2 linked regions of the Homo sapiens genome follow. The protein of the gene in region 1 purifies or fractionates together with the protein of each later gene. This does not show direct contact. Each region holds a gene or a part of one and is shown in the gene's direction. Other genes may lie near its edges.

What was found. Proteins that work in one complex are often made in the same cells at the same time.
Region 2: the proteins of FNTB (region 1) and PITHD1 purify together in Homo sapiens (affinity purification with mass spectrometry, with the first as the bait; 3 studies listed by BioGRID). This does not show direct contact.

Annotation. Positions count from the first base shown.
Region 1 is NC_000014.9:64,993,395-64,996,894, forward strand, and holds part of FNTB (protein farnesyltransferase subunit beta), read left to right. Parts: intron 1-3,500. UniProt on the Homo sapiens protein: Essential subunit of the farnesyltransferase complex. Catalyzes the transfer of a farnesyl moiety from farnesyl diphosphate to a cysteine at the fourth position from the C-terminus of several proteins having the C-terminal sequence Cys-aliphatic-aliphatic-X.
Region 2 is NC_000001.11:23,781,418-23,784,917, forward strand, and holds part of PITHD1 (PITH domain-containing protein 1), read left to right. Parts: intron 1-3,500. UniProt on the Homo sapiens protein: Promotes megakaryocyte differentiation by up-regulating RUNX1 expression.

The DNA of each region.
Region 1 (3,500 bases):
CCATTAGCCAAAGCAGCCTTAACTGAGGTTGTTTTAGGGTATTGTGTCATCCCCAGCTGGTACTTTGTATTCAAAATAAGGAAATTGCAAAACTTCCTACAGCAAGAGGTACTTTGTAAGTATTTGAATATAAAGTGACTTGTATTTTCTGAGAGAGAATTTTTTTTGAAAAGTCTTGCCTTATATTTCATATATTAAATGACTCTTCTACTGCAGCTTCAATGACATGAATCTTAGGCAGCAAATCTACTTTCTGAAACATTCTGTCTCTGGGAGAGGAGGGAGATATAGGAAGCAGAGAAGTGATAGTGCCTGGTATGAAAGTTGGTGCCTCATGAGATTGGCTTTAGATAGAAGCTGTGAAAGAGAAAGTGCCAAATGCATTAGTTGTTGTTTACCACTTACTGAATGGAAACTATTCTCTGCTTTTATTGATTGGATTTCTTTTTTTTTTTCTTTTTTTATTTTTATTTTTTTTGAGACAGAGTTTCGCTCTTGTCGCCCAGGCTGGAGTGCAGTGGTGCGATCTCCACTCACCGTAACCTCCGCCTCCTGGGTTCAAGCGATTCTCCTGCCTCAGGCTCCCAAGTACCTGGGATTACAGGCATGTGCTACCACACCCGGCTAATTTTTGTATTTTAGTAGAGGTGGGGTTTTACCATGTTGACCAGGCTGGTCTCAAACTCCTGACCTCAAATGATCCACCCGCTTCCACCTCCCAAAGTGCTGGGATTACAGGCGTGAGGTACCATGCCTGGCCTAGTGATTGGATTTCTATTGATTAAATGAAAAACTCCATGAAATACCTTTTAAACAGAGCTGTCCAGAATGCAGGCATTTGGTTAGCTCTTCATTTATTTATTGCCATGGCACCTAAGTGTTGGGGACCCTAGTACAGTTACTTGATCCCTGGCCCCTAGAGTCTAACACAATCTCTCCATTACTGAACAATACAAACTAATATACATATAGTTATGTATCACTTAACAGTAGAAATACATTGTCAGTAGGAAATTTCCTTGTCATGTGAACATCATAGAGTGTACTTAACACAAATGTAGATGGCATAGCCTACTACACACCTAGGCTATATGGTATAGCTTGTTGCTCCTAGGCTACAGGCTACAAACCTACACAGTATGTTACTGTACTAAATACTGCAGGCAATTGGAACACAATGGTAAATATTTTTGTATCTAAACATATGTAAATATAGAAAAGGTAAAGTAAAAATATGTTATAAAAGATAAAAAATGATAGACCTATCTAGGGAACTTAGCATGAATGGAGCTTGTGGGCCTGGAAGTTGCTCTGGGTGAGTGAGTGAATGAGTGGTGAATGAATGTGAAGCCCTAGGATATGAGTGTACACTACTGTAGACTTTATAAACACTGTACACTTGTTACTGAGCAGACATTATGAAAAATAAAAATAAACACGGTATGCTTAAGCTACACTAAATTTATTCATACGCTTTTTTCTTTCAATAATAAATTAAACCTAGCTTACTGTAAATTATTTACTTCATGAACTTAAAAAATTTTTTTACAGCTTTTTGACCCTTTTGTAATAACAGTTTAAAACACAAGCACATTGTACTGCTGTACAAAAATATTTTCTGTATATTTTTATTCTGTAAGCTGTTTTCTACTTTAAATTTTTTAACTTTCTTTTTACCTTTTAAACTTCTTTGTTAAAAACCAAGACACAAACGCACACATTAGCCTGGACCTAGACAGGGTCAGGATCATCAGTGTCACTGCCTTCCATCTCCACATTTCATCCCACTGGAAGGCCTTCGGGGACAGTGATAGGCATGGAGCTGTCATCTCCTAGGATAACAGTGCGTTCTTCAGGAATTCCTCCTGAAGGACCTGCCTCAAGCTGTTTTATAGTTAATTTTTTAAATAAGTAGAGTTACACTCTAAAATAATAATATATAGTATAGTAAACATGTGAATTAGTAATGTAGTTGTTTATTATCATTATCAAGTGTTATGTACTGTACATAATTGTATGTGTTATACTTTTATAACACTGACAGTGCAGTAGGTTTATTTACACCAGCATCACCACAGGCATGTGAGTAATGCTTTGTGCTACAACATCATGAAAGCTGTGTTACTAGGCTGTAGGGATTTTTCAGCTCCATCATAGTCTTAACGGGACTGCCGTGGAATATGGGGTACGTTCTTGACCAAAACATCCTTATGTGGCACATTACTATATTAGTTTATATCATATATGTGTGTATAGTTTATAAGTTGATACATACTTAGTTTATATTATATATTTTAAAGATATATGTGTATATTATATATGTATATATTTTATATATATACATGTGTGCATATAAGTGTATGTATGTATATGTACGTATGTATGTATGTATGTATGTATAAAGCCTGACCAGCAAACTTGAAAACATTCTGTACACAGAAACACCTAGCCTGGGGCTGGGTGCAATGGCTCATATCTGTAATCTCTGCACTTTGGGAGGCTGAGGCACGCGAATCTCCTGAGGTTGAGACCAGCCTGGCCAACTTGGTCAAACCCTATCTCTACTAAAAATACAAAAATTAGCCAGGCCTGGTGGCAGGCACCTGTAGTCCCAGCTACTCAGGAGGCTGAGGCAGGAGAATCGCTTGAACCTGAGAGGTGGAGGTTGCAGTGAGCTGAGATCATGCTATTGCACTCCAGCCTGCATGACAAGAGCAAAACTCTGTCTCAAAAAAAAAAAAAAAAAGAAAAAAGAAAAGAAACAACCAAGCCTGGGCTGGGCACCGTGGCTCATGCCCGTGATCCCAGCACTTTGGGAGGCTGAGGCAGGAGGACTGCTTGAAGCCAGGAATTTGAGACCAGCCTGTGCAACATGGTGAGGCCCATCTCTATTATAAGAAAGAAAGAAAGACAGAGAGGGGAGAGAAAGTAAGAAAGAAAAGAAAAGAAACATCTAGCCTGTGCCCTGTCAGGAGCAGGGGTAAACTCAACTCTTGGGTTCCCTTTTTGCCATATCGTGAGTGATCAGTTGCCTCATGATTAGAGAAGGTGAGAGAGGTACTGTTAGGCTTAACATTTGTTAGGTTATACATTAAATAATGGGAGAGCTGGCCTTGGAACCTAACAGTTAGGTATAACATTGTGTTGATGGGAAAACAAATAAGGTCTAAAAACCAATGAACTTTGAGAACACAGCTTCTGCGTATGTTGTGGCCTGCCTATCTAAGTAGGTGTAGGGGATGAGGTATCACAAAACTAAGCACTTTGAAATCCTTTTCCTTTATTTTTCTAAGAAATTTATGGTTAACAAAAGTATAATAATGTAATTAAGAGCCATTTTTCTATAACTGAGAATTAACATTTGCTAACATCTTTTTTTTTTTTTTTTTTTTTGCTTCTGGTTATTTGTTTAAAGGAAAAGCAATTAGAAATATAGCCAAAGCCTCCTTTAACCCTATCCCCAGTTCAGTGTGCCTGCCACCCTTCCCAGAAGCAGCCCT
Region 2 (3,500 bases), on another chromosome or scaffold:
GCACCACTGCATTCCAGCCTGGGCAACAGAGTGAGACTCTGTCTCAAAAAAAAAAAAAAAAATTCATCTGAAAAATTGATTAAAGGACTTCCAGAGATTTAAGATATATTATAGTTGAGTATTAGAAACATGAATTTGAAAGCAAATCCATGTATTTAATCATTTTAAGGAAATAATACCTTTGATGCTTTTGGAGACTCATTTACTTGGAAGTTGATGGACTGACCTGAGAATATTAGGCATCCATGCTGCATTGTGATTTAGAGTGTGGGATCTGGAGTAAACTGGGTTCAAATAATGGCTGTACCACTTGTTAGCTTCATGACTTTGAGACCTTATCTTCTCTATGCCTGGATTTTCTATATCTAACATGGGAATGGTAACAGTGCATACATACCTCATAAGATTGTGGAGAGGCTTAAATGAGATAAAACATGTAAAGAGCTTAGATTAGGTCTGGAACACAGTAAGTGTCCAATTTTGGGTGAACAGATACGAATACATAGCCCTCAGTTCTAAGCACACTACATATATTATACTTTATCAAATGTAAGATGTCATTGATTGTAAAATGTACCATTATATTCAATTAATACAGAAAAAATGCTATTGAACTATGACATGTCATTGACACATCCAGAAAAATTAGATTGAGAGTATTAAATCAGGGAAGTTTGAACACAGATGAGGTGTTACATGTTACTAAAGAATTACCATTCAGCCAGGCGCAGTGGCTTACACCTATAATCCCAGCACTTTGGGAAGCCGAGGCAGGCGGATTACCTGAGGTCAGGAGTTCAAGACCAGCCTGGCCAACATGGTGAAACCCTGTCTCTACTAAAAACACAAGAATTAGCCAGTCATGGTGGCAGTCGCCTGTCATCCCAGCTATTCGGGAGGCTGAGGCAGGAGAATCACTTGAACCCGGGAGGCGGAGGTTGCAGTGAGCCAAGATTACTCCACTGCACTCCAACATGTGTGACAGTGCAAGACTCTGTCTCAAAAGAAAAAAAAAAAAGAATTACCACTGGGCTGGGCACAGTGGCTCATGCCTCAATCCCAGCACTTTGGGGAGGCCGAGGCGAAAGGATCACTTGAGCCTAGGAATTAAAGGTTATGGTGAATTAAGATCGTAAGATCATATACTGGACCCCAGCCTGGGCAACAGAGCAAGGCTTAAAAAAAAATTATTTATATAGTTTGAGATAGGGCCTTACTTTGTCACCTAGGCTGGAGTGCAGTAGTGTGATCATAGCTCACTGCAGCCTCGACCTCCTCAGTTCAAGCAATCCTCCCACCGCAGCCTCCCAAGCAGCTGGGAATACAGACGTGTGCCACCACGCCCAGCTAATTTATGTATTTTTTTGCAGAGATGGGGTTTTGTTATGTTGCCCAGGCTGGTCTTGAACTCCTGGGATCAAGCAGGCTGCCCACCTCAGCCTCCCAGTGTGCTGAGATTACAGGAGCTAGCCACTGCACCCAGCCAAAAAAAAATTTAAAAAAGTGAATTGCTGTTAATTTTGTTATCTGTTGATATTGTCAATTATTGTAAAATGGTATTAAATATATGTATTTTATTTTATTTTATTTTATTTTTGAGACAGAGTCTCACTGTGTCGCCCAGGCTGGAGTGCAGTGGCGCGATCTCGGCTCACTGCAAGCTCCGCCTCCTGGGTTCACGCCATTCTCCCATCTCAGCCTCCTGAGTAGCGGGGACTACAGGTGCCCGCCACCATGTCTGGCTAATTTTTTGTATTTTTTAGTAGAGATAGAGTTTCACTGTGTTAGCAAGGATGGTCTCGATCTCCTGACCTTGTGATCCACCCACCTCAGCCTCCCGAAGTGCTGGGATCACAGGCACATGTGTGTATATATATATGTATATCTACATATATACGCATATATATATACACATATATGTGTATATATACATATATACGCATATATATATACACATATATGTGTATATATACATATATACGCATATATACACATATATATGCGTATATATACGTGTGTGTGTGTGTGTGTGTGTGTATTTTTTGTTTTTTTAAGACGGCGTTCTGCTCTGTTGCCTAGGCTTGAGTGCAGTGGCCCAATCTTGGCTCACTGCAACCTCCGCCTCCTGGGGTCAAGCGATTCTCTTGCTTCAGCCTCCTGAGTAGCTGGGATTACAGGTACACACCACCAGGCCTGGCTAATTTTTTTTTTATTTTTAGTAGAGACAGGGTTTCGCCATGTTGACCAGGCAGCTCTCGAACTCCTGACCTCAAGTGATCCGCCTGCCTCCGCCTCCCAAAGTGCTGGGATTACAGGCGTGAGCCACCACGCCTGGCCCATACTGGAATATTTATAGGTGAAATGATGTGTCTGGGATTGCTTTAAAATATTGAGCTTAAGCAAAATCAGGCTGATAGGCAAGATCAACAAAATGTTGATCATCGAAGATGAGTGAAAAGTATGTGGAGATTCATTATGTAATCTCTGCTTTTGTGTAAGTTTGAACTTTTCCATAGTAAAGTTTTTTCAATATATGCGTTACTTAGAATCGATTCAATTTCATCTCCATACCAACCGTGTGGAATATGTACTATTACCATTCCCATTTTACAGATGAGGAAACAGAGGTTAAATCAGGTGCCCAAATTTACTCAGCTGGTAAGTGACAGAGCCAGGCTTGAATCCTAGAAAGTCTAGCTCTAGATTTTAACTACAGCGCTATACTGCTTCTCATTATGCCGCTCATAAATGTTTACTATTATTATTATTCTGTGGTGCATCATTCTTAGAAACACTTTGAAGTAAACATTTGCTTTCTTTTTTTTTTTTTTTTTTTTTTTTGAGACGGAGTCTCGCTCTGTTGCCCAGGCTGGAGTGCAGTGGCGCCATCTCGGCTCACTCCAAGTTCCGCTTCCCAGGTTCATGCCATTCTCCTGCCTCAGCCTCCCAAGTAGCTGGGACTACAGGCGCCTGCCACCACGCCCGGCTAATTTTTTGTATTTTTAGTAGAGACGGGGTTTCACCGTGTTAGCCAGGATGGTCTCCATCTCCTGACCTCATGATCTGCCCGCCTCGGCCTCCCAAAGTGCTGGGATTACAGGTGTGAGCCACTGCGCCCGGCGGCTTTCTTAAATTACATGCATTTTGCCCCAGCTAATATCGAGGCCTCTTCTGTGTGGGTGTGTCAATAAAACACCCTGGAATTGGTGGGGACATGTGGCTTAGTCTTTGGGAATTTGTGGGTTATAGAGACAGCTGCTTTTTAGATTACTCTTTGAAAAACATTTTCTTCTCTAGCAGTTTACTTTTTATTTATTCTGAGACAGAGTCTCTCTGTCACCCAGGCTGGAGTACAGTGGCGTGATCTTGGCTCATTGCACCCTCTCTAGCGGTTTGGATGTGAGATTGCAGTCTTTTGTGATCTTTCAAAATGGAAATCCTCATGTTATAAATGTTTTAAGAACTGTAAGGTGACTGAGTGTATGGCGTGGTTTTTGGAC